4 linked regions of the Homo sapiens genome follow. The protein of the gene in region 1 purifies or fractionates together with the protein of each later gene. This does not show direct contact. Each region holds a gene or a part of one and is shown in the gene's direction. Other genes may lie near its edges. The genes, in order: STX8, STX7, VAMP8 and STX12.

Region 1 (7,025 bases):
TTGCATTTTTTAGTAGAGACGGGGTTTGGCCATGCTGGCCAGGCTGGTCTCAATCTCCTGACCTCAGGTGATCCACTCGCCTTGGCCTCCCAAAGTGCTGGGGTTACAGGCATAAGTCACCACGCCTGGCCAGAATATGTGTTTTGGTTCAAGACAACCAAAATAGTAGTAGGCAGCTAAGGCGGCTTTCCTTGCAACAAAACCAGATAAAAAGACTCCTGGATAAAGCGCCCTTCACCCCTCCCTGCCTCTTGCTTTCCCATCAGCCTACTTGCCACGTTCCCCTGCAGCTACAGGGCAGAAGTGGCCAACACAGAGATCCACACTCTCTCGAAAAGTCAGCCTCCAGATTCTTTCTCCTCCTTCCCCTCCTCCTCCATGTCAGTAAGCACTGAGAGCTGTTACCTACACCCAACTTGTGGCAGGGGCGTTGGCAGCACAAGCTCCGTATTTTGCTCGTTTCCAGTGTTTCACTGGAAAAAAGTATGGACCATGACTCCAGATGACGAGTCTTCAGAAAACACCATTCCTGAGAGACTGTGTTTAATATCCTCTCCCAGTTTGAAAAGGAGTTTGTTTTCTTACATCTTTTTTTAATTGCCATGAGCTGGACTTGTAAATATTGTAAGTGGTTGAGTAATACTCATCTGGTAAACTGACCAAAGGAAATGGACATTTTTTTCCACTCTTGTAACCCTGGCATCCCATGCCTGCCCCTGAAAGGGACTCTTGAGTATTGGAAGGGAAAATCTGCCTCGCCAGGTGCCAGCGGGCCCAGGGCAGGAGCTGAGTGAAGCGCAGAGAAACGATCCCGAAGTCAGGAGCCGCAGCAGGTGTTCTGTGCTAGGGTTGGGGGCAGAGAGCATTCATTGTTTAAGAAGTTGGCAGCCTCCCAGAAGTTCAACTGTCTTTCCTTGTTCTGAAATGTCAAACATTTCCTTAGCTGGGGGAATGGATGAGTAGACCCCCCTGAGGTTTAAGAACTATTCTGAGGCAGAAGAAGGAAGTTCTGCTTTTCACACGTGACCGAGTACGATGTGAGGTCCCATGTCCCTCCGGCAGGGGGGTCGGCTGCGCCCCTGAAACTGGAGCCACCTTCCTACATCAGAAGAGTTGCCAGCTCTTCCCTGCCTCTGCCTTTAGGAACCGTCAGACCCTCTGTGGTTATGTGGGTAGTGGGGGAGTGTGTGTGTCTTTTTAATGGTGCCTTTTAGTGATACTTACTGAAATATTTGTAGATGACCTATGTCTGGAATTTGTTTCAAAATAATATGCAGGAGACAGGGAGCAGGTGAGGGTTTGCATAAAGCCAGACAGGCCATGAATGGATCCTTGCGAAAGCTGACGGATGGGCTCATCACTGTTCTGCGTGCCCTTCGGTCTGCTTTTGTATATGTTTAAAATTTTCCATCATAAAACGTTAAGGAAGGGAAGGAGGGAGGGAGAAAGAGAAGAGGATGAAAAGAGAAGAAACTCTTGATCCCGGTGTTTCAACCCCAGTGAGTCTGAGCCTCTCTCCCCGAGGGACCCCCACACTGTCTCGAATCAGGATGCCTCCACTCAAGCTCCACTGGTGTAGACAAGGGTGAGCGTGTGGGCAGAGGGGTCCTACCCACCTGGATTCCAATTCTAGTTCTTCCTCTTACCCGCCAGAGGGCCTTAGGTAGGAGAGTTCACCTTCCAGAACCCCAGCTTCCTCAGATATAAAACAGAGATGAGGGTTACTTACTGTGCAGAATTAAACCAAGTAATACACCCATAGCACTTAGTGCCAAACCTGGCACGCATGACTGTTTCATGAACGGTGTGGCTCAGCTTTCCCTGGCTTCAAAAAGATCCCTGCTTACTCATTCCGAAACATCCTTCAGAGGAGAGAAACTCCATTCAGAAAGGTGCCAGAGCTGGGATCACATTCGAAGAAAGCCAAACTTCTTAAAGAAAAAGGATTGCCGTGCTAAGGTAGATAAACACCTTCTCTTTGACCCAAAGAATCCAAAAGACAGCAGTTGGCTTTTGCTTATCGCTGTCACCTGCCATCTTAAAACGACCTCCTCAGTTGACCCTCAGTATATACCAGTTTACTTAAGCCTGTTTAAAGTCTCCCCCTGTTTGCTCTGAAAGGGTTTAAAATATAAAAGCCTTATTTGTCATGGCTCCTAAAATCCTCCTTTTCATCTTGGGACAAGAACCCAGTTTATCACATCTTATCAGCTTACTGTCCAAGATGTCCATCACTCAAGTTCATTTTCATTTATTTATTTATTTATTTATTTATTTATATATTTATTTATTTATTTATTTATTTATTTTGAGATGGAGTCTTGCTCTGTTGCCCAGGCTGGAGTGCAGTGGCACAATCTCAGTTCACCACAACCTCCGCCTCCCGAGTTCAAGTGATTCTCCTGCCTCAGCCTCCCAAGTAGCTGGGACTACAAGCGTGCACCACCATGCCCGGTTAATTTTTGTATTTTTAGTAGAGACGTGGTTTCTCTGTGTTGGCCAGGCTGGTCTCAAACTCCTGACCTCAGATGATCCGCCCGCCTTGGCCTCCCAAAGTGCTGGGATTACAGGCGTGAGCCACAGCGCCTGGCCCATTTTCATTTTTTATAGATAATGTGTGCCCTGTCATGCCTTTCCTGGGGCACAGTTTGTCTAATTCACAGCATCTGTGGTAGAAAAATTAGCAGCTTAGCCACCACTGTATTAATAATAGTTCCACTAGACCCACCCACCATGCGCTAAAACTGTACTATGAAAGGTCTCTGCAGCTCTTCTGTGGAAGAGCATTCTTCTATCTTGTCTCTGTAGTATTGTGGGTTGGCATTGGCCACTTTTTGAATTTTCTTACTCATTGGCCTTCTTGCCACATTTTCTCAGCTTCTCCCTCTCTGCTGACCACTCCTTCTATGCCTCTCTTGACTCTTCTTATCCCTTCCAAAAATTCAATACATTTACTCATTTGTTTTATACACACACACACACATGCACACACGTGCGCGTGTGTGTGTGCCTCTTTCCTGTGCCAGGCTCTGTTCTAGGTACGGGGGATATGGCGGTGAACGAGAACCCACAGTCCCTGGTGTAGATGTTCATGTGTCCAGGAGAGACAGACAGTAACTGAGTACCTAAATAATGATTCAAGGCCGGGCGCGGTGGCTCACGCCTGTAATCCCAGCACTTTGGGAGGCCCAGGAGGGCAAATCACTTGAGGTCAGGAGTTCGAGACCAGCCTGGCCAACATGGTGAAACCCTGTCTCTACTAAAAATACAAAAATTAGCCGGGCATAGTGGTGGGCACCTGTAATCCCCGCTACTTGGGAGGCTAAAGCAGGAGAATTGCTTGAACCCAGGAGGCGGAGGCTGCAGTGAGCCAAGATCACGTCACCGCACTCTAGCCTGGGCGCGAGACTCCATCTCAAAAAAAAAAAAGATTTAATAAGAGTTACCATGGAAACTTAGGGGGGCAAAGAGGGCACAGGTAACTGGAGGATGACAAAGAGTTCTTTGGGAAAATGCCACTGAGTTTGAGGGATTAACTAGACCACGAGTGGGGAGCTCCCGGATGGAAAGGATAGCGCGTGTCGAAGCTGGGAGGCAGGGCCCCTACCTTCTGCATCAGCCTGTTGGGGGCACCGGAGACAGCCAGGATGGCTCAAACACAGCGCGCAGAGTGCGGCTGCAGGGTTGCTGGGTCAGACTGTGCAAGACCCCCTTGGCCACTGTAAAGTTTGGATCTCAGTTTCAGCCACTGGAGGATTTAAGCAAGGAGGTGACCTGATCTCCTTTACATTCTGAAAAGCTTGCTGTAGTTCCATCGTGGAGCAGGGACCGGGGAAAGCAGTCCCTCACTGCAGGGAGCCAAATCAGGGATGGCAGTGACTGCGCATGCCTTGAGGCCTCTTCCCTTGGACCTCACGCTCCGGGTGTATGAACCAAAACCAGATGTGTGTTTTCTTCTTCCCAATCAGTTGTTGTTCTTGATTTCTTTGTTCTTGTCACTTGCTCCGCTCTTCTCATAATCACCCTGATTTGACAATTCACGGTCATTCATACTGGCCTCTGCTCCAGGCCATCAGAGCCTCAGTGTGGAGCCTGCCTTGATGCATGGAGCTTCTGGGCCCAAGTGTCCTCCCAACTGTGATCCCACTGGAGCTTCAGGAGCAGTACCTCTTCCTAAAACACCTCTCATCCTCTCCCTCATCTCCTCAGCTGCCAGCCCCTCCCTGTCATCTTAGGGTGAGCCCAGGCCCTGGAGTGCCAGGGATTGCCCCTTCGCCCCATCCCAGCCTGTGCCTGCCTCCTCATTCTCGTTATCTTCTCCTCATGTTGCGCAACATAAACCTTCACCCAGCCAGGACCAAGTCTTCAGCTGATCACCACACAGGCACCAGAATAACCAAGAACTAGTGAAGCTCCTGCCCAGGGGAGCTTTTGGTCAACCTGAAGATGTTTCTGGAGCAGAAATCAGTGAAAAGATTTGTTCTTCTGCTTCTGGCAAGAAGATGGACTAAGATATTCTCACATACACACACATACGCATACACACACACACCCGTATCCCTACCTTCTCACTGCAGATGGACTAAGATATTCACACACACACACACACACACACACACACACACACACCCCTACCCCTGCCTTCTTGCTGCAAGCATCTTGAAATGTGAGGTAAAATAGTGTAACTCCACCCACCCACAAATGTTAATGCAGGGCTGAATTTACAAGGAAGAAAGGAAATCCCTAGATGAAAGAAATGAAGAGCGCATTGAAGGCCAGCGCCTAAGTGGGCGAACTGATGCTGCAGGTGGGTCATCATCATGATGATGGAGAGCAGGAGCTAGCAAGCCTCTGGAAGAGGCCAGGTCGTAAACGGTTTAGGCTGTGCAGACCACAGACGGTGTCACATCTCCTCCTTTTACCTTTTTGACAACCCTCTACAAATATAAAAACCATTGTTAGCTCATGGGTTGCACAAAAACAGAGCACAGCTAGATTTGGCCCATGAACCAAAGTTGGCAGAGCCTTGAGGTAGACTAGGATGAGGTTTTCATCTACAGGAAGACGGGGGAGAAACCTTGGGGCCCCAAGAGAAGCGTTTCTCAAAAGATTGGATCATCAGAGAAAGAGCCCATATCAGAAAAATGCAACCACAGTCACAGGTAGATGACAAAGAAGCTTGCCCTAGTTTTTTTTTTTATTTTCGTTTTCTTTTTTTTTTTTTTTTGAGACAGAGTTTCACTGTTGTTGCACAGGCTGTATTGCAGTGGTGTGATCTCAGCTCACTGCAACCTCCGCCTCCCGTGTTCAAACGATTCTCTTGCCTTAGCCTCCCAAGTAGCTGGGATTACAGGCACCCACCACCACACCTGGCTAATATTTTTTTTTTTTTTGAGACAGAGTCTTGCTCTGTTGCCCAGTTTGGAGTGCAGTGGCGCAATCTCGGCTCACTGCAAGCTCCGCCTCCCGGGTTCACGCCATTCTCCTGCCTCAGCCTCCCAAGTAGGTGGGACTACAGGCGCCTGCCACCACGCCAGGCTAATTTTTTGTACTTTTAGTAGAGATGGGGTTTCACCATGTTAGCCAGGATGGTCTCGATCTCCTGACCTCATGGTCCGCCCGCCTCGGCCTCCCAAAGTGCTGGGATTACAGGCGTGAGCCACTGCGCCCGGCCAATTTTTTAAATATATTTTTAGTAGAGACGGGGTTTCACCATGTTAGCCAGGCTGGTCTCGAACTCCTGACCTCAGATGATCTGCCCGCCTCGGCCTCCCAAAGTGCTGGGATTACAGGCATGAGGCACCGTGCCCGGCCTATTTTTTTAAATATATTTTTAATAGAGATGGGGTTTCACCATGTTGGTCAGGCTGGTCTCGAACTCCTGACCTCAGATGATCCGCCCGCCTTGGCCTCCCAAAGTGCTGGGATTACAGGTGTGAGCCACTGCACCCAGCCACTTGCCATACATTTTTAAGTCTCTTCAATATTCAAAACCATGGTGCAGTGCCCACATGGGTTGAGCTTAAGATTGGTATGGCCTGATCCACATTGAACCCTGAGGATCTGTGGAGGGGATTCGGGAAGCCCGTGAACTTGGACCGGAAAGCAAATTGGACTCTTATGTTCACAAATGTCTAATTGAAATTTAGCATTTTCTTTGCTCACGAACATATGCCACAGACTACCGTGGCGTTCAGCAGTCCTGATGGCTGTGCAACCATGTGACCCTGCACACGTGGCTCTCCCTGTTACTTTCTGAAGCATTTTCATGGACCTCTCCTCCTCTGCTACCCACCTCTCTCGTGGGGCCTTGGCAGCTCAAGGACTCTTCAGTGAGCAAACCTTTCTTGAGTGCTTACTTTGTAGTAGGGCGCCCCTTCTCTGTTATGCTATACCTTGTCGCCGCTGGTACCTGGCACGTGGTAAACACTCGTTAAATACTGGGCAAGCGAACATGGGAGACAGTGAGCTCATTGCACTAAGTGAGGGCTGCATTCTGTGGGGCCCACTTCATCAGCATCAGGTGAAGGAACAGGCAATGGTCAGTGCAGACACACGACCCAGAGGAGGCAGGGCGGGGCTGGAAGGCAGAGTGGCACCCAGCATGGGCTGGCTAGGAGGGCCTGTGCTCTCCAGCCAAAAACGTCAGGAAATGAAACTAGCAAATACTAGCAGAAAAAGTATATATCAAAACAAGCACCTCTATCGGTGAATATTTTTACAAATGGGTGACTTAAGGATCTTGGACTCAAGAACACAAAGTGAAGCCATGTGGAGAATGGAGAAATGGGTTCTAGAATGCTCTCCTAAGCCCTTTGCTTTATCAATGCGTCATCAATGCATAATCTGATTGGGTAGTGAGGGTGGCTGTCGTCAGCAGCTTGCGCCCTCCCTTGTGGTCCAAGGTGTACACAGATGCTAGAGTTAGGGGCCTCACCCCCTCCTGGCTTGAGTGCTGCCTGGGGGGGCCTGGCCACACCCAGGCCCCTGCCTTCTGCACTCAGCATCCTGCAAAGCCAGAGCTG
Region 2 (7,025 bases), on another chromosome or scaffold:
GCTGTATTTTGGTGTTAGTTAACCAACCTTTGGCTATCCCCTTCCCGCCATCCTTCTCTGCTTCTAGTAACCACTATAATTTTAACAGCCCATTTAGTTAGTGGCTAGTCTGTTAGTACAGGTCTAGGTAATGAATTATATAATTATTATTCTGAGCAATTAAATAGGAATTCTGAGTGGGCTTTCAAAAGTATTCAACAAGAGTACTTTAGTGCGTAGCAGCTCTGGGCTAGGTAATGGAGACTGATGTGGAAAGCAGACATCTGAATAACTCAGCATCCATTTAGCCTATATGCAGAGATCATAAGCTTTTAATCAATTTGTAGTTACCTATCCTGTCTGTCTATGCTTGTATATATATTTTTTAAAGACAACCATTTGGTTCCTTTCCTTTGTGTGTCTCATTATCAAAAGAGCCAACTGTTGTTGCCTTTTAGATACCACTTATTAGCAGAATAATAGAGAAAAGGAGTAAGCTATTCCTCTGTGTTACCTTGATCAACTCATGTAGTTATCCCAAACATATTCCTTCATCTTAGGAGTGGGAATAGCAAAACTTCATATGGGGCATGCAGAAAAGTGGTAAATTTGGTTTTTCTTTTGTCTTTTTTTATTTTATGTTATGTTATGTTATGTTATGTTATGTTATGTTATGTTATGTTATGTTATGTTATGTTATTTTGAGACGAGTCTCGCTCTGTCGCCGGGCTGGAGTGCAGTGGCGTGATCTTGGCTCACTGCAACCTCCGCCTCCTGGGTTCAAGCGATTGTCCTGCCTCAGCCTCCTGAGTAGCTGGCACTACAGGCGCATGCCACCACACCCAGTTAATTTTTTTAGTAGAGATGAGATTTCACCATGTTGGCCAGGATGGTCTCAATCTCTTGACCTTGTCATCTGCCTGTCTTGGCCTTCCAAAGTTCCGGGATTACAGGCGTGAGCCACCGCGCCCAGCCCAAATTTGGTTTTTCTAACTGAGTTCACCTGCCCTCAATTTTGTTATACAAGGAAGCAGTATGGCTTAGTGTTTAAAAAATGTCGGCTCTGTGGTTATTTTCAAATATTTGCTCCTTTGCTTATAATGATAATGAGGCATAATGATATGCCTCAGTTTCTTCATGTAAAAAAATCACATTAGCAATTATACCCACATGATAGGCTTATAAGAATTAACTGAGAAAATAAATTTAAAAGTCATAAGCACAATGCTTAGGAAATGTAAGTCCTGGATGAGTGTTGGCCATTGTTAACTTTGTTTTATTTTACACATCTTTCTTCTCTATCTTTTGCAAATTGCTTTTCATTCTTCACACATGATTCCTGGCTAGATACAGTGGCTCAAACCTGTAATCCCAGCACTTTGGGAGGCTGAGACTGGAGGATCGCATGAGCCCAGGAGTTCAAGACCAGTCTGGGCAACAAAGTGAGACCCCCATCTCTATAAAAAAATCAAAAAATTAGTGGGATGTGGTGGCAGGTGCCTGTGGACCCAGCTACTCGGGATGCTGAGATGGGAGGATTGCCTGAGCCTGGAAGTCAGGGCTGCAGTGAGTCGTAATCACACCACTGCACTCCAGCCTGGGTGCTCCTGTCTCAAACAACAACAACGCCAAACAAAGAAAAAGTAAAACAAAACTCATAATTCCAGTCAATCTAAGTAGCACCTCTTTGGGTGAATGAAGCCACTTGCCAATTGTCTCACCAGCAGGAACTTTCTCACATTTAGTAGCTTGAGGAAAGGGATGAAGAAAATTGATTGTGTTTGTGACTAAGTGATTGATTTTCCAGAGAGGAAAAAAGGTGGCCTTGAAAGAAAACAGTGAGAAGACTTGGGCTACACTGGTGTGAGTTTTAAGGGTAAGGAAAATGCTGTAGAATACTGTCCTTGACTTGATGGAACTCTTTATGGGAGAGAGAGTAGGCCTCAGGTGTGCTTGCATGGTTTTGAGACAGGTGATGAGTTTCTCTTGGTCTTGTGCTGATGCTGGTCCTGCAGCTGCAAGAACAGATCATAACTTTCCTCTGTGTAGGGTGGAAAAGCATTTGTTCTCTGGATGTGCATTATCTCATTTTGATTCTGGCAGTGGGCCCAAATGCTAAGTGTCTTGCCCAAAGTAGAAATTTCCAGTTGCTACTTCCATGGTGTGCCGCACAGGCAATGGCTGAGTTCTTGTAGCTTCACAGACATGTAGACACGAGAGAAAGCCAAGGGTACGAGCTGGAGACATGGATGTGCGACTCATTCAGGTATAGATTAAAATGGAACCATGTATATGGAGGAGCATCCCCAGAGATTACATGAATAACAAACTGAACATTTTTTCATTCAATGTGTTTGTTTTGGCTTGTAAGCCAGTTTTTCCAGAGATCTACTTGATAGAGGGAAAGGAGAAAGGAAGATGTCATTGAACCAAGAGAAAATTGTCTTTCTCCATACCTTGGAATATTATTTGGCAATAATGAAGGAATATTATTTGGCAATAATGAAGGAATGAAGGACTGATATATGATACAGCACAGATGGACTTTGGAAGCATACTAAGAGAAAGAAGCTAGTCTCGAAGAACACATTGTATGATTCCATTCCTATGAAATGTCCAGAATAGCAAAGCTATAAAGATACAAAGTAGATTAGTAGTCACCTTTGGCCAGTGAGGTTGGGGAGAAATGGAGAGCGATTGCTAATGATTACAAACTTTCCTTTTAGCGTAATAGAAATGTTCTAAAAGTGATGATTGTACAATGTTGTAAATATATTAAAAACCATTGGCTTGTGTACTTCAAGTAGGTGTATTGTATTGCCATATCTCAATAAATTATATCTCAATAAAGCCATTTTATTTATATAAATTTAAGGGGTGCACATGCAGTTTTGTTACATGGTTATATTGCATAGCGTGAAGTCTGGGCTTTTAGTGTAATCATCACCTGAATAATGTACATTGTACGCATTAAGTAATTTCTCATCCCTCACCCTCCCATCCTTTTGAGTCTCCAATGTCTTCTTATTCCACTCTCTGTCCATGTGTACACATTATTTAGGTTCCACTTACAAGTGAGAACATGCAGCATTTGACTTTTTTCTGAGTCATTTCACTTAAGATAATGGCCTCCAGTTCATCTGTGTTGCTGTGAAAGACATAACTTCAGTCTTTTTTAAGGTTGAATAGTATTCCATTGCATTTATATACACTACATTTTCTTTATCCATTCAGGAATGTTAATAGACACTTGATGGGCACTTAGGTTAATTCCAAATCTTTGTTCTTGTGAATATTGCTACAATAGACATATGAGTGCAGATTATCTTTTTGGTATAATGGTTTTTTTTTTCTTTTGGGTAGATACCCAGTAACGAGGTTACTGGATCAAATATTAATTCTATTTTTAGTTCTTTGATGACTTGCCATGCTGTTTTCTGTAGAGGTTGTACTACTTTACAGTCTCACCAACAGTGTGTGTGTTCCTGTTTCTCTGCATTCTTGCCAACATCTGTACTTGTTTGACTTTTTTTCTTTTTTTTCCGTTCAAGATGTGTTTGTGGATGAATTTTTAATAGCCATTCTGACTGTTGTGAGATGATGTCTCATTGTGGTATTAATTTGCATTTATCTGGTGCTTACTGATGTTAAACATTTTTCATGTGCTTCTTGGCCATTTGTATGTCTTCTTTTGAAAAATGTCTATTCATGTGCTTTGCCCCCTTTTTAATGGGGTTATTTGTGGGGTTTTTTGTTGAGTTGTTTGAGTTTCTTGTAAATTCTGGATATTAATCTCGTTGGATGTGTAGTTTGCAGATATTTTTCTCCCATTCTGCAGGTTGTCTGTTCATTCTGTTTATTATTTCTTTTGCTGTGCAAAAGCTTTTTAGTTTAATTAAATCTCATTTTGTCTGTTTTTTGTCTTGTTGCCTGTGCTTTTGAGGTCTTAGTCATAAATTCTTTTCCTAAACCAATGTCCAGAAGAGTTTTCCCTATATTTTCTTTTAGTATTTTAATCGTTTTAGGTATTACTTTTAAGTCTTTAATCCATCTTGAGTCGATTTTTTTTTTTATATGTTGACAGATAAGGGTCCAGTTTCACTCTTCCGCATGGGGCGATCCAATTTTCCCAGCACCATGTATTGAAAAGGGCGTCCTTTCCTCAGTGTATGTTTTTGTCAACTTTGTCAAAAAGATCAATTGACTGTAGATATGTGACTTTACTTCTGACTTCTCTATTCCATTCCATTGTTCTATGTGTCTGTTTTTATATGAATATCATGCTGTTTTAGTTACTATACCCTTTTAGTATAATTTGAGGTCAGGCAATGAGATGCCTCCAGCTTTGTTCTTTTTCTTAAAATTGCTTTGGCTATTCAAAACCTGTGTTTTTTTTTTTTTTTTTTTTTTTTTAAGTGACTTGGAGATGCATTTAAAATTGCATGGTTTCAAGGATGTTCCGGATGGTGTTGGTGTCATTGAATCCCCATGTCTACTCTTGTTCTGTCTGGGCCCAAGTCCAAGGCTACCTGGAAGGAAGTTTATTCCTGTCTCCCCACTGTAGTGGTCCAGCTGTCTGACTTTAGGTTTGAATTTACCCTTTAATGAAATTGCTTTTGGATCCATCTCTAGGATTTGGTGAGACCCAGAGAGCCCAGAATAGATCAGCTGTACCTGAGAGGGAAGTTGGAGAATATCTAAAAGCCACCAGGACTTTCAGCGTGGCCAGGCACATTCAAAGTGCACCAGAGTTCCAGGCATAGAACCAGTACTGTTCTAATGGTCTCAACAGTTCAGCTGTTGTACTTCCTGCCAACACTGTCCCTTAGAGCAAAGACACATACTTCACTGTGGCTTCTTCTCTACCAGAAATCTTCTGTGGCATTAGTTCTATGTGGTAGCAAGCATGGATAGCCTTGGCATCAGAACCCTGGGACTGAATCTCACCTCCACCTGTGGGTGGGTTGGGTTACCATTACTTAATCATAATAAGCCCGCTGTTTGCTCATCATTAAAACAAGAATAATGCCACTTAATTGAAGGAGGTTGTGAAAAAATTAGTCTGTGAAATACTTTTTGTGTCGCAGATGTGCGAGAAATGTTAGGCCATTCCTCTCTTTCCCTTTATGTTGTTTTCCCCTTGTCCCAGCTGTGAATCATCTGATCCAGGGTTGGCCAGGAACCTTCCCTTCCTTTTGTAAATACCATACTGCATGTGGCCTTTCCACGTGCTCTGGGTCTCTCCACCCCAGCCTTCACGTCCTTGCCTTTGTTGTTCTGCATACTGGTCATAACCAAGCATCCAAATCCTATGTTTCTATTTCATAAATTCTTTCCAGACAAGGATGATGGTCATTTTTTCTTTTTGTAGCCCTTCTCATTTTAGCCTAGCACGTGATCTTTTATGGATTTGTGGGGTTTTTTGTTGGTTTGCATTATTAACTTTATCCTTCCTCCTAAATGACAAACTTGATTTGAGCAGATACTGTGTCAGTGTGTTTTGTTTTGTTTGCATCTCCCAGGTGCTTAGTTTAATGCTGGGCATGTACCAGGCTCTTAGTAGAGAGCTAGCTTACAAATTGACCACCAACAATTTTGCAGTATTCCAGTGCATATTCATGGAAAAGATGGGGTGGCGGTAGTTGAAATTCTTTGCTGTGCGCAGTTCTGTATGCAGGGACATTCCTTTTCAACCTTCTTTCCAAACCCTGATTGGAGTGGTGTGGATTGAAGAGGTAGAGAATGTCATCTCACCTGCCTCCTGTGGCAGTATCTCAGTGTCTCTTCTATTCTGAGATGCTGGCTGCTGAAAGGGGAGAGTCATTCGTTCTCCTTCCTCTGTCAGGAAGGTTTGATAAACATTTTATATGACATTTGCTTCGCAGTAGTTGGCTCTGCTATTTCAGATTTAACCTTTTCCATTAAAATTAGAGCCCTATTAATCATACATTCCTGAGCAGGTCCTGTGTGTGTGTTAAATTAGATATTAAGGTTGGTACAAAAGTAATTGCCATTTTTACCATTACTTTTAATGGCAAAAACCACAATTAAAAGTAATGGTAAAAACTGCAATTACTTTTGCACAACCTAATACAGTGAAATTTCTGGGGATAGCCTGAAGTCTGTGTTCCATTTAATAAATATTTAAATGCCTGTTTGTGCTAAGAGTTGTTTTAAATATTGGAGAAAGATAAATAAGCATGTGGGCCCTGCCTTATAATTGTTTGGAGTTTAGTTAAGGAAAAAATATGTAAACAACTAAAATTATATACAGGTAAGGGATTTAATAATTTTTCTTGAAGAGATCAAAGACGTTTTCAAAGGAAATATGCAATTTGAACCTTATTTTAATTGTTTGATGTGTTTAACATGACTCTGTCCTTTGAAGTCCAGTTTTTTTTTTTTTAGTAGACATGAGAGTTTTGCTATTTGATGTGTCACTTTGCCAGATTTCAACTCTATTAGATTAATCAAGTTTGTCCTTGTAACTTCACAGATTGTTAATTTGGAAAATGTAAGCCAGTAACTTAAAAAATATATCTGTGTGACTTTTATATTATTTAGGTGACTGCTTAGAAAACTGCACAGCATCTGATGAAATTAGCGAATAAGAACATCAACCATGTCTTACACTCCAGGAGTTGGTGGTGACCCCGCCCAGTTGGCCCAGAGGATCTCTTCTAACATCCAGAAGATCACACAGTGTTGTGAGTTGAGTTTTAAATGGACTTCACTATTTGTATCCACTCTTAACTGAACTTGGTGGAGGTTCATAAAAGGACAACTCTGCTGATTGAGAGAGGGAGGAGCATTCCTCTAACAACAGGTTTTAAAGGGCTCGAACTCTTTAGAATGAATGCAAGAGAATTATATTTGAGATAACACTTACTGCATTTTTCTATAGGAAGTCAGGGCCAGGCACATAATACATTATTTCATTAAATAAAATAAAGATTTAAAAGGATAATGGATTCTTATATCTGCTTTAAAGCTATCTGGTTCTAGATGAGATGATGAGACCTGATGACTCAGTCTCATAGGTTTGG
Region 3 (7,716 bases), on another chromosome or scaffold:
GGGAAGAGATCATGCTGGCATTAACTAGGAGGAAGGGGCTGGCATTAACTAGGAGGAAGGGGCTGGCATGGAAAGGAGGAGGTGTATATGAGAGGCACAACCAAGAATAAACCAAGATTTGGCCCATTGCTTCTTGGGCTACAACTCCTATAACCAAGCAGTTCAGCAGTTTTTCCTTACAAAGTCACTTCACTGAATATATATATATATATTATGTTTGAGGCTGGGGCGGTGGCTTACACCTGTAATCCCAGTGATTTGGGAGGCCGAGGTGGGCAGATCACTTGAGGTCAGGAGTTCGAGACCAGCCTGCCCAACATAGTGAAACCTCGTCTCTACTAAAAATACAAAAATTAGCTGAGCATGGTGGCGCATGTGCCTGTATTCCCAGCTACTTGGGAGGCTGAGGCAGGAGAATCACTTGAACCCAGGAGGCAGAGGTTGCAGTGAGCCGAGATTGCGCCACTACACTCCAGCCTGGGCAACAAGAGCAAAACTCCTTCTCAAAAAACAGAAAAAGAAAAAAGAAAAAGACAGGGTCTCACTATGTTGCTCAGGCTAGTCTCGAAATCCCAGGCTCAAGCAATCCTCTCACCTCAGCCTCCCAAAGTGCTGGGATTACAGGTGTGAGCCACTGCACCTGGTCTACTGAATTTTTTGAGTGCTAAGCACAGATGATGAGGTAACTGAGGCTTAGAGTTGTTATGCAAGTTTGTCCCAGGTCATGTAAATATTAAGGTATGGATCAGCCACCATGCCCAGTGATAAGCCACATTACAATATGTATTTTAACATTTTTCACTAATCACATAATTTACATTTTTCTACTGGCCAAATTTTAAAAGTAAGAGAAACAGGGCTGGATGCAGTAGCTCATGCCTGTAATGCTAACACTTTAGGAGGCTGAGGCAGGAGGATCACTTGAAACCAGGAATTTGAGGTTACAATGAACTATGATTGTGACACTGTACTCCAGCCTGGGTGACAGTGAGACCCTGTCTCAAAAAAAATAAATAAATAAATAAAAATGAATTTTAAAAAATAAAGAAACAGGTGAAATTATTATTATTATTATTTTTTTTTTTTGGAGACAGTCTCACTCTGTTACTCAGGCTGGAGTGCAGTGGCGCCATCACGGCTCACTGCAACCTCTGCTTCCCAGGTTCAAGTGATTCTCTTGCCTCAGCCTCCCGAGTAGCTGGGATTACAGGCAAGCGCCACCACGTCCAGCTAATTTTTGTATTTTTAGTAGAGACGGAGTTTCACCATGTTGGCCAGGCTGGTCTCAATCTCCTGACCTCATGATCGGCCTGCCTCAGCCTCTCAAAGTGCTGGGATTATAGGTGTGAGCCACCATCCCCGGCTGAAATTAATTTTATTTATTTTATTAATCTTTTATTTAACTCAATATATCCAAACATTATTTCGCCACATAATCAATATATAAAATTATTATTATTATCATTATTAGTGACAGGGTCTATCTCTGTCTCCCAGGCTGGAGTGCAGTGGCACTATCATAGCTCACTGATGTCTCACACCCCTGGGCTCAAGTGATCCTTCTGTGCTAGCTCTCCAAGCAGCTAGGACTATGGACATGCACCACTATGCCTGGCTAATTTTATTTTATTATTTATTTATTATTGGTTTTTTTTTTTGAGATAGAGTCTCACTCTTGTTGCCCAGGCTGGAGTGCAATGGTGTGATATCGGCTCACTGCAGCCTCCACCTCCCGGGTTCAAGCAATTCTCCTGCCTCAGCCTCCCGAGTAGCTAGGATTACAGGCATGCGCCACCATGCCTGGCTAATTTTGTATTTTTAGTAAAGATGGGTTTTCTCCATGTTGGTCAAGAGCTGGTCTCGAACTCCCGACCTCAGGTGATCTGCCCATCTCGGCCTCTCAAAGTGCTGGGATTACAGGCGTGAGCCACGGTGCCCAGCCAATTTTATTTTTTTAATTTTACTTTATTTTTATTTTATTATTATTATTATTATTATTATTACTTGAGACAGAGTCTCACTCTGTCGCCCAGGCTGAATTGCAACGGTGTGATCTCGGCTTACTGCAACCTCCGCCTCCAAGGTTCAAGCGACTCTCCTGCCTCAGCCTTCCGAGTAGTTGGGAATACAGGTGCCCACCACCATGCCCAGCTAGTTTTTGTATTTTTAGTAGAGATGGGGTTTCGACATGTTGATCAGGCTGGTGTCAAACTTCTGACCTCAGGTGATCCACTGCCTCGGCCTCCCAAAGGGCTGGGATTACAGGCATGAGCCACTGTGTCCAACAGTTTTATTTTTTTATAGAGACAGTGTCTTGATATGTTGTTGCCCAGGCTTATATATAATATTTGCTGAGCATGGTGGGTTATGCCTATAATCCCAGCACTTTGGGAGGCTGAGGTGGGAGAATCACTTGAGGTTTGGAGTTTGAGACCAGTTTGGACAACACAGCAAGACACTGTCTCCAAAAAAAAAAAAAAATTAACTGGACATGGTGGCCCTTGCCTGTAGTCCCAGCTAACTGGGGAGGATGAGGTGAGAAGATTGCTTGAGCCCAGGAGTTCAAGGCTGCAGTGAGCTTGAACACACTGCACTGTACTCTAGCCTGGATGACAGAGTGGGACCCTGCCTCTAAAAAAAAAAAAAAAAAGCTACAGGGGTCCGAAGTTTGTTTAAAGCTTTTAAAAAGGCATTTGTGGCCGGGCGCGGTGGCTCACGCCTGTAATCCCAGCACTTTGGGAGGCCAAGGCGGGCGGATCACCTGAGAGGTCAGGAGTTCGAGACCACCCTGACTAACATGGTAAGACCCTGTCTCTACTAAAAATACAAAAAAATTAGCCGTGCCTGGTGGCATGCACCTGTAGTCCCAGCTACTAGGGAGGCTGAAGCAGGAAAATCGCTTGAACCTGGGAGGCAGAGGCTGCAGTGAGCCGAGATAGCGCCATTGCACTCCAACCTGGGCAACAAGAGAGAAACATCTCAAAAAAAAAAAAAATTATTTGTGTCTGGATGTGGTGGCTCACACCTATGATCCCAACACTTTGGGAAGCTGAGGAGGGAGGATTACTTGAGAACAGGAGTTTGAGACCAGCCTGGGCAACATGGTAAGACCCCCATCTCTACAAAAAGTTTTAAAATAAATTAGCCAGACATGGCGGTTCGCACCTGTAGTTTCAGTTACTGGGGAGGCTGAGGCAGGACGATCGCTGTAGCCCAGGAGTTCAAGGCTGCAGGGTGCTACGATCATGCCACTGGACTCTAGCCTGGGTGACAGAGGGAGACTATCTCAAGAAAACAAAACAAAATAAACAAACAAAAAAAGTGTTTGTTGGAGAAGCTGACATTTCCTCCTTGGAACTGATTTCTTCTGGAATGGGTCAAGAATGTTCGTTCCCTTCTGAATGTCCCTGTTATTGTTCTTCTGTCTTGATAAACACTGTCAAGGAAGATCAGATTTTCTCTGGCCTGGAGCCAGGTTAGTGGAAAAATCCTTTGCCTTGGGCCCCCTGCTCTGGTTCACTGGGGCAGTCCTCTGATCACTGACTGGGATCAATTACCTCTGCGGTAGCCCCTAAAGGGAAATGCAGAATTGCTGAACTCTGGAAGGGAAGGAGAGGTTTGGTGAGCCATCATTATAGACACTGTGCTAGTGGCATTGCACTGCACATGCTATCTTTTTGCTTCTTTTTTTTTTTTTTTTTTTGAGGCAGAGTCTTGCTCTTGTCACCCAGGCTGGAGTGCAATGGCATGATCTCAGCTCACTGCAATCTCTGTCTCCCGGGTTCAAGCAATTCTCCTGCCTCAGCCTCCTGAGTAGCTGGGATTATAGGCAACTGCCACCACGCCTGTTTATTATTTTGTATTTTTAGTAGAGACAGGGTTTCGCCATGTTGGCCAGGCTGGTCTTTAACTCCTGACCTTGTGATCTGCCCGCCTCGGCCTCCCAAAGTGCTGGGATTACAGGCGTGAGCCACCACGCCCGGCCTCTTTTTGCTTCTTACCAGCACCATCTGAGCTAAGCATCAGCACCTGCAAACTCCACAGAGGTGAAAAGTTTCCCTGAGGGGCCTGTAACTAGTAACCCAGAACTTTCTGAATCAGAGCCCAGGATCACAGTATTCCAGACTTCAGGGATTTTAGTGCTTTCTGCCACCCAGGGACCTGGGAACAAGTGTTATCCAGCAATACATTTTCATAACTGCATTTTGTTTCCCTGTGAGCTAGGCCTGGCATGGTTGATCTCAGTCTCTAGAAACTGGAGTCAGATATTCAAGACATTACAAGGAGATGGCTGGTGGGGCATCATGGCTCCTAGGACTTTGGGAGGTTGAGGTGGGAGGATCGCCTGAGCCCAGGAGTTTGAGACCAGCCTGGGCAACATGGTGAGAACTCGTCTCTATTTAAAAAAAAAAAAAAAAAAAAAAAGGCTGCCCTTTCTAGATCAGGAGGTCCAGCCTCTGGAAACCTCGGAGGGCTGCTTGATCTTTCTTTTCTAATTCCTGACAAGTTAGAAGACCTTTGGCTTCTGAGAACCCTATTACTTTAAGTTTAAGCTCTTGTTTGGGAAGCCACTGGGAGGACAGTGAAGAATGCCCGCCTACCTGGGGAAACCTGAGTTAGGTGTGGCTGGAGCGACTCGAGATGCGAGGTGGGCGGGGGCAGGCTGAAAGTTGGAGCAAGCAGGAAGTGAACTGAGGGCCACCCTGGGAGGAAGCCGACTAGGCGAATTCACTTACTGACCGGCCTGGGCTGCTCTGAGACATGGTGAGCCAACTGGGAACTAGGAAAGGGCTGGTTTAAAGAGGAGCCAGAGGGGGCTTGGGACTGGGGGTTGGCTGTGTCGGGGGAGGAGAGTTGGTGGCAAAGTTAGAGGGCTGGGCCAGTGCTGCTATGGCCTCTCTTCTTTGACAACTTGGCTGCAAATAGCTCTGAGCTGTCCTGGCAGGTGTTTCTACTCCTTCTCCCTCCCTCCCCTGACCTCTGTGCTGGTGGGGAGCTGGGCTTCCGTGCCAGCGCCGATGGGGGCTCCGAATTCCAGGCAAAGAGTTGTTGTGCCTTCCTCCTCCAGGGAGCCCGAGGCGGGTGTTGTGACACCACACCAGGCAGCGCCTGGGCAGTTCCCAGTTCAGATTCCAGCCCAGCGGCAGAAGCTCTCCTCTCCGGCCTTTCACTTTATCCCCACACAGAAACACAAAGGATTTGTGTGTCCACTGAGTCCTTTGGGTGTCCTTTCTCCATTAACATGGAGAAGAGAACTAAAGGTTTATAAGAGAACCAGAAGTTGGTTCTCTGTGATAATGTAGTTCTGACCCATGCCACTGGCCTATTTTTGGAGGTCAAGCGGGGAGGAGCTAAATACTATTTTTCTCTCCTTGTTCAAAAACCTTGTCATGAAGCCTCCGAGATGAGACATCAGCCAGGGAGGACTAGTCCTCCATTTCCCCCAACACCCAGGCGGGTATTTTTATTTAATATCTGCATAAGCAGGCGGTTGCTTGGTGCCTGCACGTGTCGCCCAGTGGTGGGGAAAGCAGAAGTGTGTGGCTCAACGGCTCCAGGCGCCTTCTGGGATACTTGGTTGCCTGTTGTTCTGGGTCACAGCAATGGCATTGCGGCCAGGGCCGTGCTCCGGCAGCTGGCTTAGAGGGACAGATGGGTGGGGCTGGGTGAGGGTGTTCTGCTGGCCAGCACAGACACTTTCAACCAGGGTCCCAAGAAATCAGGAAAGGGGGGTGGCTCTGGGAATTGTAAATAGTGGCGGGCTCTGCTCTGGAAGGGAACATTGTGAGATGCTGGCCCTGCTGTATTCTACGGCCCTCTCTAGGGAGCAAGGAAGCAGTGGGGAGGGATTTAGTGATGTGCTGCTTTTCCTTGTCAGGGGCCCTAATAACCCCAAAAGAAGTTTGATCTAGTCTGTTCAGCATCACATCTCACCTTCTGGGGCTTACAAATGCATTTATTTTTGATTACAGAAGTAATACATGAAAACATTCTCTTTGTAAACATTTCAAGCATTTTACAAAAAGCTTAAGTCTGCCTGAGGCCTTACCCTCCCCAGATCTCTGAGCCCAAGTCTCCAGTTCCCCCACCACTTGGTCTAATTAACCCCGTGTTGCCGCACAGGAGGAAGCCAGTGAAGGTGGAGGAAATGATCGTGTGCGGAACCTGCAAAGTGAGGTGGAGGGAGTTAAGAATATTATGACCCAGAATGTGGAGCGGATCCTGGCCCGGGGGGAAAACTTGGAACATCTCCGCAACAAGACAGAGGATCTGGAAGCCACAGTGAGACAGGGAGCCCACTGGGGGCTGGAGGAAAACAGGGAGGGAGGGAATTTCTTTTTGGTGGGGCAAAATGGACAGGAGGGCCAGAAGTTTGACATTTCTGTTGCCTTTCACCTGGTTTGGGAGCTGATGTGAGCTGAGTCTCCACTTCTGAATCTGCTCTGCTCCACAGATTGTTATGGATCCCAGGGAATGGATCCCATGACTGGGGCTTGAGGTGGCAGCTCGCCCATAGAGGCATGTTCTGAGACCGAAAGCTCAGTCAGCCCATGCATTCTCAGGCTTCTCTCCCGGGAAACTTGTTTTCCCTTTGAAGCCTGCCCATGACAATCATCTGGGTCTGACCTTCCCAGGGCAGAAATATTGGCTCTGAGGAAACCCCCGCTGTGGCCTCTAGCCTTCTCTAGGAGCTGTTAGACAAGGGGTGGGAAATTGCTGGCGTCTTGCTGAGTAGGCTTTAAAAAGAAGGGGGAAAGAGCAGTGAAATGCTTTGATCCCAGGGTCCCCTGCTAGATGAAGGCTAAAATAATATCTCCCACACATCTTGCTAGACCTCATTCTTCTCTCTCTCCAGCCAGGGGCTGAGGCCAGCTGTTTCAGGGAGGAAGTAACTCCAAAGTTGAGCAAAGTCTGGAGCCTCAAGTTCTGTGTTCAGCGGGGAGGCTGGCTCTGGCTTTCTGAGTCCTGTGTGAACTCTTGGCTCTTGGGTATTGCTCCCTTGTCTCCCTGGGGCTCATTGCCTGTTTCTGTAGCTTAATTGTAGCTTAATTTGGGGAGCATGGCCCCGGGAATTTTTTTTTTTTTTTTAGACAGAGCCTCACTCTGTTGCCCAGGTTAGAGTGAGTGCAATCTTGGCTCACTGCAAACTTCACCTCCTGGGTTCAAACGATTCTCGTGCCTCAGCCTCCTGAGTAGCTGGGATTACAGTGTGCACCCCCACACCTGGCTAATTTTTTGTATTTTTAGTAGAGACGAAGTTTTGCCTTGTTGGCCAGGGTGGTCTTGACCTCCTGACCTCAGGTGATCCACCTGCCTTGGCCTCTCAAAGTGCTGGGATTACAGACTTGAGCCACCATGTCTGGACAAGCCCCAGGAAATTTAGTGTCTATAACTTGAATTGCTGGGCATGGGGAAGAGTGGGTGGAGGAGGAGGAGTTCCCTTACTTCCAACCCTCTATCCTGTCCTGGTCCCTCCTCCAGCCTCAGCAGTCCCGATGGGGCAAGGAGTCCTGGAGCTGCGAGATGTGCCCACCTGGAGCCTGCACCCCTCAGTCCCAGGGTCTGCCCTCCCAAGGGCAGATTTTGCTGCCAGTGTTGTACCCTTGGGTGTAAGCAGGTGTCGAGGACCCCTCAGTGTGCAGGGGTAAGAAGAGAAAGGGGACCCCTAGTCATATCTAGGTGGAGACCTCCTAGGATCCTGAGAATTCTAAATTT
Region 4 (6,750 bases), on another chromosome or scaffold:
ACGGTGAAACCCGTCTCTACTAAAAATACAAAAAATTAGCTACGCCTGGTGGCATGCACCTGTAGTCCCAGCTACTCGGGAGGCTGAGGCAGGAGAATCCCTTGAACCCAGGAGGTGGAGGTTGCAGTGAGCCGAGATTGCGCCACTGTATTCCAGCCTGGGTGACAGAATGAGACTTCGTCTCAATTAAAAAAAAAAAAAAAATGGAGTTAGTCATATCAGCTATAGAGTTAAAGTATGTTTAGGAATGCCGTTTTAAAAATTACCAAATTTATTTTTCGTAGCAATTTTTTTATGTTATCAAATGTAGAAGTTAAATGAGGCCTCATGAATACTCAGTCCCATTGACTTCTTTGTACATCTTTGTTTAGAGAAATAGCTCTCAGCTTCCCAGCTTTTATCTCAACAAACTTGCAAAATTATGGGGTTAGTAACCCTTTTTTTTTTTTTGAGACGGAGTTTTGCTGTTGTTGCCCAGGCTGGAGTGCGATGGTGCGATCTTGGCTCACCACAACCTCCGCCTCCTGGGTTCAAACAATTCTGCTGCCTCAGCCTCCCGAGTAGCTGGGATTACAAGCATGTGCCACCACGCCCGCTAATTTTGTAGTTTTAGTAGAGACGGGGTTTCTCCATGTTGGTCAGGCTGGTCTTGAACTCTCGACCTCAGGTGATCTGCCCGCCTTGGCCTCCCAGGTGGTGGGATTACAGGCGTGAGCCACCACGCCTGGCCAGTAACTCTTTTTTTTAAAGCTTTCTATGTGGAAATAATTTCGAGTTTATTAAAAGTTGCAAAAATAGGCTGGGCATGGTTGCTCACGCTTGTAATCCCAGCACTTTGGGAGGCTGAGGTGGGAGGATCACTTGAAGCCAGGAGTTCAAGACTAGCCTAGGCAACATAGTAAGACCCTGTCTTTACCAAAAAATTAGCCAGGCATAGTAACATGCACCTGTAGTCCTAGCTACTCAGGAGGCTGAGGTGGGAAGATCACTTGAACCCAGGAGTTGGAGGCTACGGTGAACTATTATTGTACCACTGCACTCCAGTCTAGGTGACAGAGTGAGATCCCGTCTCTTAAAAAAAAAAAAAAAAAAAAGGTAGCAAAAATAAAAATATTATAAGGACCTTCTTTATACCCTTTACCCAGATTTACCTCTTGTTAACATTCTACCCCATTTGCTTTATTATGTATTCTTTCTCTCTTTCTCTATGTGTATCTACATAATTTTTTATGAATCATTTATGGGTAAGTTAAATACTTCATAGCCCCCAAAAATTCATTGTTTTTTCTCCAAAGAAAAGGCTAGTCTCTTACCAAGGTAGTAACTCGATTTCATGGCTGGATAGTTTGGATAGTGGTAGTGAAACCAGGACATGTAACATCAGAAATCTGTTCAATTTGCAGTCTTAAAACATCTGAGTGTGTTAAAACATCCTCTGTCCTTCCTTTTGCAGATAGCATAGAAGCCAATGTGGAAAGCTCAGAGGTGCACGTCGAAAGAGCCACTGAACAGTTACAGCGAGCTGCTTACTATCAGGTAAAAGCGGGTACCAAAGAAAGTCACTCTGTGTTGCAGACTTTTTAGGCCATCAGAGTACATTGACATATTGAGAACAGCTACAGCCTTTGCTTAGGTTTAAGCTAAAGGAAAGTAGTCATAATTGCAGTCCCAGTTCCATTTTTATTATTTTCCTTTGCAGATAGATCTACAAAAAATAATCACACCTTGAATAAACTTATCAGAAGGCTAGTAACTGCAAAGCTAACCCTATACACTAATATGATACCTAAATCTGCTATGAGGCTGTTTTATATCCCGAACAGCTGAATGTATTTCAATTAGGATAGTAAGAAGTACAGTTAAAGTAGAAGACTTCATAGATTCTTTATGTTGAGTGTTGCCATAGAGGATGGACATAGAATCAACTTCGACTGCTATTTATATATGAATAAATAAGGATAATCATTCTGGAACTGTTCCTGTAAAGTGAAATCCTTCTACATGTTAGTTGAAACTCTGGTTTTTTTACTTATCCAAGTCTTTATCTCAGTGTACAAATAATGTGAATGAAGTCTTTCTCACTTCCCTTCAATTTGGTGTTGCATGGCTTTTTAGAAATAAATAGCATTTCATGTCCTTCGCCCACTTTTTGATGGGGTTGTTTGTTTTTTTCTTGTAAATTTGTTTGAGTTCATTGTAGATTCTGGATGTTAGCCCTTTGTCAGATGAGCAGGTTGCGAAAATCTTCTCCCATTTTATAGGTTGCCTGTTCACTCTGATGGTAGTTTCTTTTGCTGTGCAGAAGCTCTTTAGTTTAATTAGATCCCATTTGTCAGTTTTGGCTTTTGTTGCCATTGCTTTTGGTGTTTTAGACATGAAGTCCTTGCCCATCCTATGTCCTGAATGGTAATCAGTGTGGCGATTCCTCAGGGATCTAGAACTAGAAATACCATTTGACCCAGCCATCCCATTACTGGGTATATACCCAAAGGACTATAAATCATGCTGCTATAAAGACACATGCACACGTATGTTTATTGCGGCATTATTCACAATAGCAAAGACTTGGAACCAACCCAAATGTCCAACAGTGATAGACTGGATTAAGAAAATGTGGCACATATACACCATGGAATACTATGCAGCCATAAAAAACGATGAGTTCGTGTCCTTTGTAGGGACATGGATGAAATTGGAAATCATCATTCTCAGTAAACTATTGCAAGAACAAAAAACCAAACACTGCATATTCTCACTCATAGGTGGGAATTGAACAATGAGAACACATGGACACAGGAAGGGGAACATCACACTCTGGGGACTGTTGTGGGGTGGGGGGAGGGATAGCATTGGGAGATATACCTAATGCTAGATGACGAGTTAGTGGGTGCAGCACACCAGCATGGCACATGTATACATATGTAACTAACCTGCACATTGTGCACATGTACCCTAAAACTTAACGTATAATTAAAAAAAAAAAAAAGAAGAAATAGCATTTCAGTTGTTTTCCGTGTTCCTGGGATAGCTGTATTTTACCTGGGAGTGCTCGTAAAGAAATTCGTATTTAATAATAGTGTTTCCTTTAAAAACTAGGTGATTAATTTAGTGTCCAACAGTAAAGGAATAATTAAGTAAATTATATACATCCACTCATTGTTGCATATGGGAATTAAGAGATGTTTCTGAAGAGTTTAAACAGAAAAATGTTTATACTAAACATTAAGTGAGGAAAAACATCAAACATCATACAATGTGATCCAGTTATGTCAAATAATATACATAGATAACAAATCAGAAAGAAATACAAAAATGTTGACGGTATTATCTATGGGTGATTTTTTTTTCTCCCTCCGCTTGCTGTATTTTTTTTTTTACAATGAACATAACAGTTTTATACGTATTATAAAATGTTATTAAAATACACATGCACAAATAACTTATTTTATTGCAAATAATGCCTGGCAGCACAGGTATAGTTCCTTTGCAAAATTGTATGTGGGGACTTGGAATTAAAACTTTGAAACCTATACTACTCGGCTGGGTGCGGTGGCCCACGCCTGTAATCCCAGCCCTTTGGGAAGCCGAGGCAGGTAGATCACTTGAGGTCAGGAGTTCGAGATCAGCCTGGCCAACACTGGTGAAACCCCGTCTCTACTAAAAATACAAAAACTAGCTGGGCATAGTGGCACACGCCTGTAATTCCAGCTGCTCAGGAGGCTGAGACATTAGAATCACTTGAACCTGGAAGGTGGAGGTTTCAGTTAGCCAAGATCGCACCACGGCACTCCAGCCTGGGTGACGGAGTGAGACTCTGTCTCAAGAAAAAAAAAAACACCAAACAAACAAAAAACACTTGCACTACTACCTAGTGCTGCTGACTTAAGATTTCTGGGAAAGTCTGTGCATAATTTTGCATGGATAGAGTTAATCTTTAATTACAAGGAGGCAGATTTATGAAGCATTCTTAGAGTCTTACACATACAAATTTTACTTGTTTCATGAGTATCTTGTTTACATATTTCTTTCCTCAGAAAAAATCTCGCAAGAAGATGTGTATCCTGGTGCTTGTCCTGTCAGTGATTATTCTAATCTTGGGACTTATTATCTGGCTAGTTTATAAAACGAAGTGATTGCCTCCGATCGTTCTCCCGCTGAGCTGTTTTCAAGGGCAAGTGCTTGTTGAAGTCTTGCCAGAACAAACTGATCACAAGAAGACAGCATATATCAGAACGTCCTGTAATCATTTAGTTAGAAACTAACTACTAACTAGTCTTTGGAATTCGTGACCTATGGAGACAGTAATTATCAATTTATTGATTCTATTGATTTCTCAAATTAGGAATTAACTTATGTGGATTTTGCTTCCTCTTGTATTCTGATTGCCCTTCATCCCAAGTGTTTACTGAAAATTCCATTCTAGATATTCTTGTTTTGACAAATGACACTACAGTCTCGTAATATTGTCTTTTATGTATATACAAAATTTACCTTTTTACTAGCATCTGAGATAGAGTTACTTTCTGGTACCCAGTATATTGGAGTCTGTCAGAAACTCTATAATAGGCCACCAGTTTTTATTATTTAACATTTTTATTTGAATTTCTAAGAAGCCTATTCTCTATCTATTTTGAAAGATTTTGGCACTATATTTAATTGGAAGGTAAAATATTGTACATGTGATCCAGAGTAAATGAGAAGTCTCTATCTGAGCTGGTCAGTTACTGGAGTACATGTTACTAATCTGGGTTTAAAGTTTACTTCATTATCTGCTAGTGTCATCCACAGCAGTTCATCCTCATCCACACTAAGCCATCCTGTTAGCTTTTAAAGGAAGTTAATTTAATTAACATTAATATACTCTATGGGCTCCCTCTCCCACCTGTCTGCATAGAAAGGCAGAATTAGACATAGCATGCTTTGGAAAAGCAAATAGGAATTGTTGGGAATGATTTAATCTTGTTGTTGTTGTTGTTGTTGTTCACTTGTGGTTCTACATTCCTGGTGAATGATGAATGTTGCTGTCAAAGGGCTGCCCCCTACCTTATAAGGGTTGCTGGGCATTTGAAGGCAGGAAGATTTTTAAAGATAGATTGAGGTTGGTTTAAAATTATTCCTGTAAACCAACAATAAAGCAAAGAAGAGGTTCATTTTTGTAAATAACACTGGTTTCAAATAGTGATGTTAGACTTAACCTAATTTATAAACAAGAGATTAATATCTCCATGCATAGTTTTAGACAAAAAAAGATGTTTCAATAAAATTACTGTCTTGTAATATAAATGTTGTCCACTTCCCTTTTCCACAGGCCTAGAACAGTTAAAGGGAACATAATTTGTTTAGGCTCCCACATAAATGTGAATCTGGCCAACAACTTTGGTTCATCCTTTAGTGAATTAGAGGATTTGGCTACCCTGAGTATATTTATATTCATTTCTTCTGTTCTCCTTCTGTTATTATACTTAATCTTCTAAACTAAACTAATGTGAACAGTAGGGAAGCAAGGGCCCAAATGCATAAGTTTCTTTGCACTGTTGCACTTACTTAATACAAATAAATGTTTTTTAAAGCTTTTGTAGTATGTTTTTATGAGTTAACATCCTAATGTGGTAGGTATTAGGTAATGTGCTGTCATGAGAAAAATTGAGACTTCCAAGAAAACTGGACACCAGGTGAGGGTTGGTTTGGAGACGGAATAGGTGTAGCTGCCTTTCCTTGAAAAACAGTGTGTAGAGATGGCTGAGTGCAATGGCTCACACTTGTAATCCCAACACTTTGGAAGGCTGAGGCGGGAGGATCAGTATATCGGTACGTCTGAGCCCAAGAGTTCAAGATCAGCCTGGGCAGTATAGCAAGACCCCATCTCCATTTTTTTTTTAATGATTTTTTAATTAAAAAAAAGAACAACAGGATAGAGCTGTTGGGGTGGCACAGTGGCCCAAAGAGCAGCTTCAGAGATAATTCCTTGGTTCTATGATCCCTGTTTAACTCCAAATTACAGTCGGACTTGGATACATCATTTGTAACATTGTAGGAAAGAAAAAAGTCTTGGTTGTGAAAAACGATTTGCATTTGGGTAAAATAAAGTGACCATGCTTTTGTTCTGTAATACTGTGTGACCTGTGGTTGTTGTAATGGTGATCATGGAGAGCAAATATGAACTTGGCCTGGATTTTAAATGGCCTAGAATTTGTGGTAGTTGCCAAAGAGGTTCTCCTAGGTGGTCTTAATAAACCTATTCACAGAATTCTCCTTATCTGTGCCTTGATTATCATTGGGAGCATCACAATCTAGGACAGCAGTTTTTAACATGGCTTCACATTAGAAACTAAAAAAATACAGTGCCCACTTTGGCAGCACGTATATAAAATGGGAACAATAGAGAGAAGATTAGCATGGCCCCTGCACCAGGATGACTTGCAAATTCATGAATTCTCTCTCTCTGTCTCTCTCTCTGTGTGTATGTATATATATACTTTTTTTTTTTTTTTTTTTTTTGAGACAGGGTTTCACGCTGTCGCCCAGGCTGGAGTGCCGTGGCACAATCTCAGCTCACTGCAACCTCCACCTCCTGGGTTCAAGCAATTCTCATGCTTCAGCCTCCCAAGTATCTGGGATTACAGGTGCTCACCACAATGCCTGACTCATTTTTTAAAATATATTTTTAGTAGAGATGGGGTTGTACCATGTTAGCCAGGCTGGTCTGGAACTCCTGACCTCAAGTGATCCGCCCACCTCGGCTTCCCAAAG

What was found.
Region 2: the proteins of STX8 (region 1) and STX7 purify together in Homo sapiens (affinity purification with mass spectrometry; 7 studies listed by BioGRID and IntAct, with this or other methods). This does not show direct contact.
Region 3: the proteins of STX8 (region 1) and VAMP8 purify together in Homo sapiens (co-immunoprecipitation; 5 studies listed by BioGRID and IntAct, with this or other methods). This does not show direct contact.
Region 4: the proteins of STX8 (region 1) and STX12 purify together in Homo sapiens (affinity purification with mass spectrometry; 5 studies listed by BioGRID and IntAct, with this or other methods). This does not show direct contact.

Annotation. Positions count from the first base shown.
Region 1 is NC_000017.11:9,250,812-9,257,836, reverse strand, and holds part of STX8 (syntaxin-8), read left to right. Parts: intron 1-7,025. UniProt on the Homo sapiens protein: Vesicle trafficking protein that functions in the early secretory pathway, possibly by mediating retrograde transport from cis-Golgi membranes to the ER.
Region 2 is NC_000006.12:132,503,107-132,510,131, reverse strand, and holds part of STX7 (syntaxin-7), read left to right. Parts: intron 1-6,543; 5' UTR 6,544-6,601; coding exon 6,602-6,686; intron 6,687-7,025. UniProt on the Homo sapiens protein: May be involved in protein trafficking from the plasma membrane to the early endosome (EE) as well as in homotypic fusion of endocytic organelles. Mediates the endocytic trafficking from early endosomes to late endosomes and lysosomes.
Region 3 is NC_000002.12:85,572,886-85,580,601, forward strand, and holds the start of VAMP8 (vesicle-associated membrane protein 8), read left to right. Parts: upstream 1-4,700; 5' UTR 4,701-4,761; coding exon 4,762-4,764; intron 4,765-6,123; coding exon 6,124-6,282; intron 6,283-6,856; coding exon of another isoform or gene 6,857-6,989; intron 6,990-7,716. UniProt on the Homo sapiens protein: SNAREs, soluble N-ethylmaleimide-sensitive factor-attachment protein receptors, are essential proteins for fusion of cellular membranes.
Region 4 is NC_000001.11:27,818,197-27,824,946, forward strand, and holds the end of STX12 (syntaxin-12), read left to right. Parts: intron 1-1,453; coding exon 1,454-1,536; intron 1,537-4,034; coding exon 4,035-4,133; 3' UTR 4,134-6,247; downstream 6,248-6,750. UniProt on the Homo sapiens protein: SNARE promoting fusion of transport vesicles with target membranes. Together with SNARE STX6, promotes movement of vesicles from endosomes to the cell membrane, and may therefore function in the endocytic recycling pathway.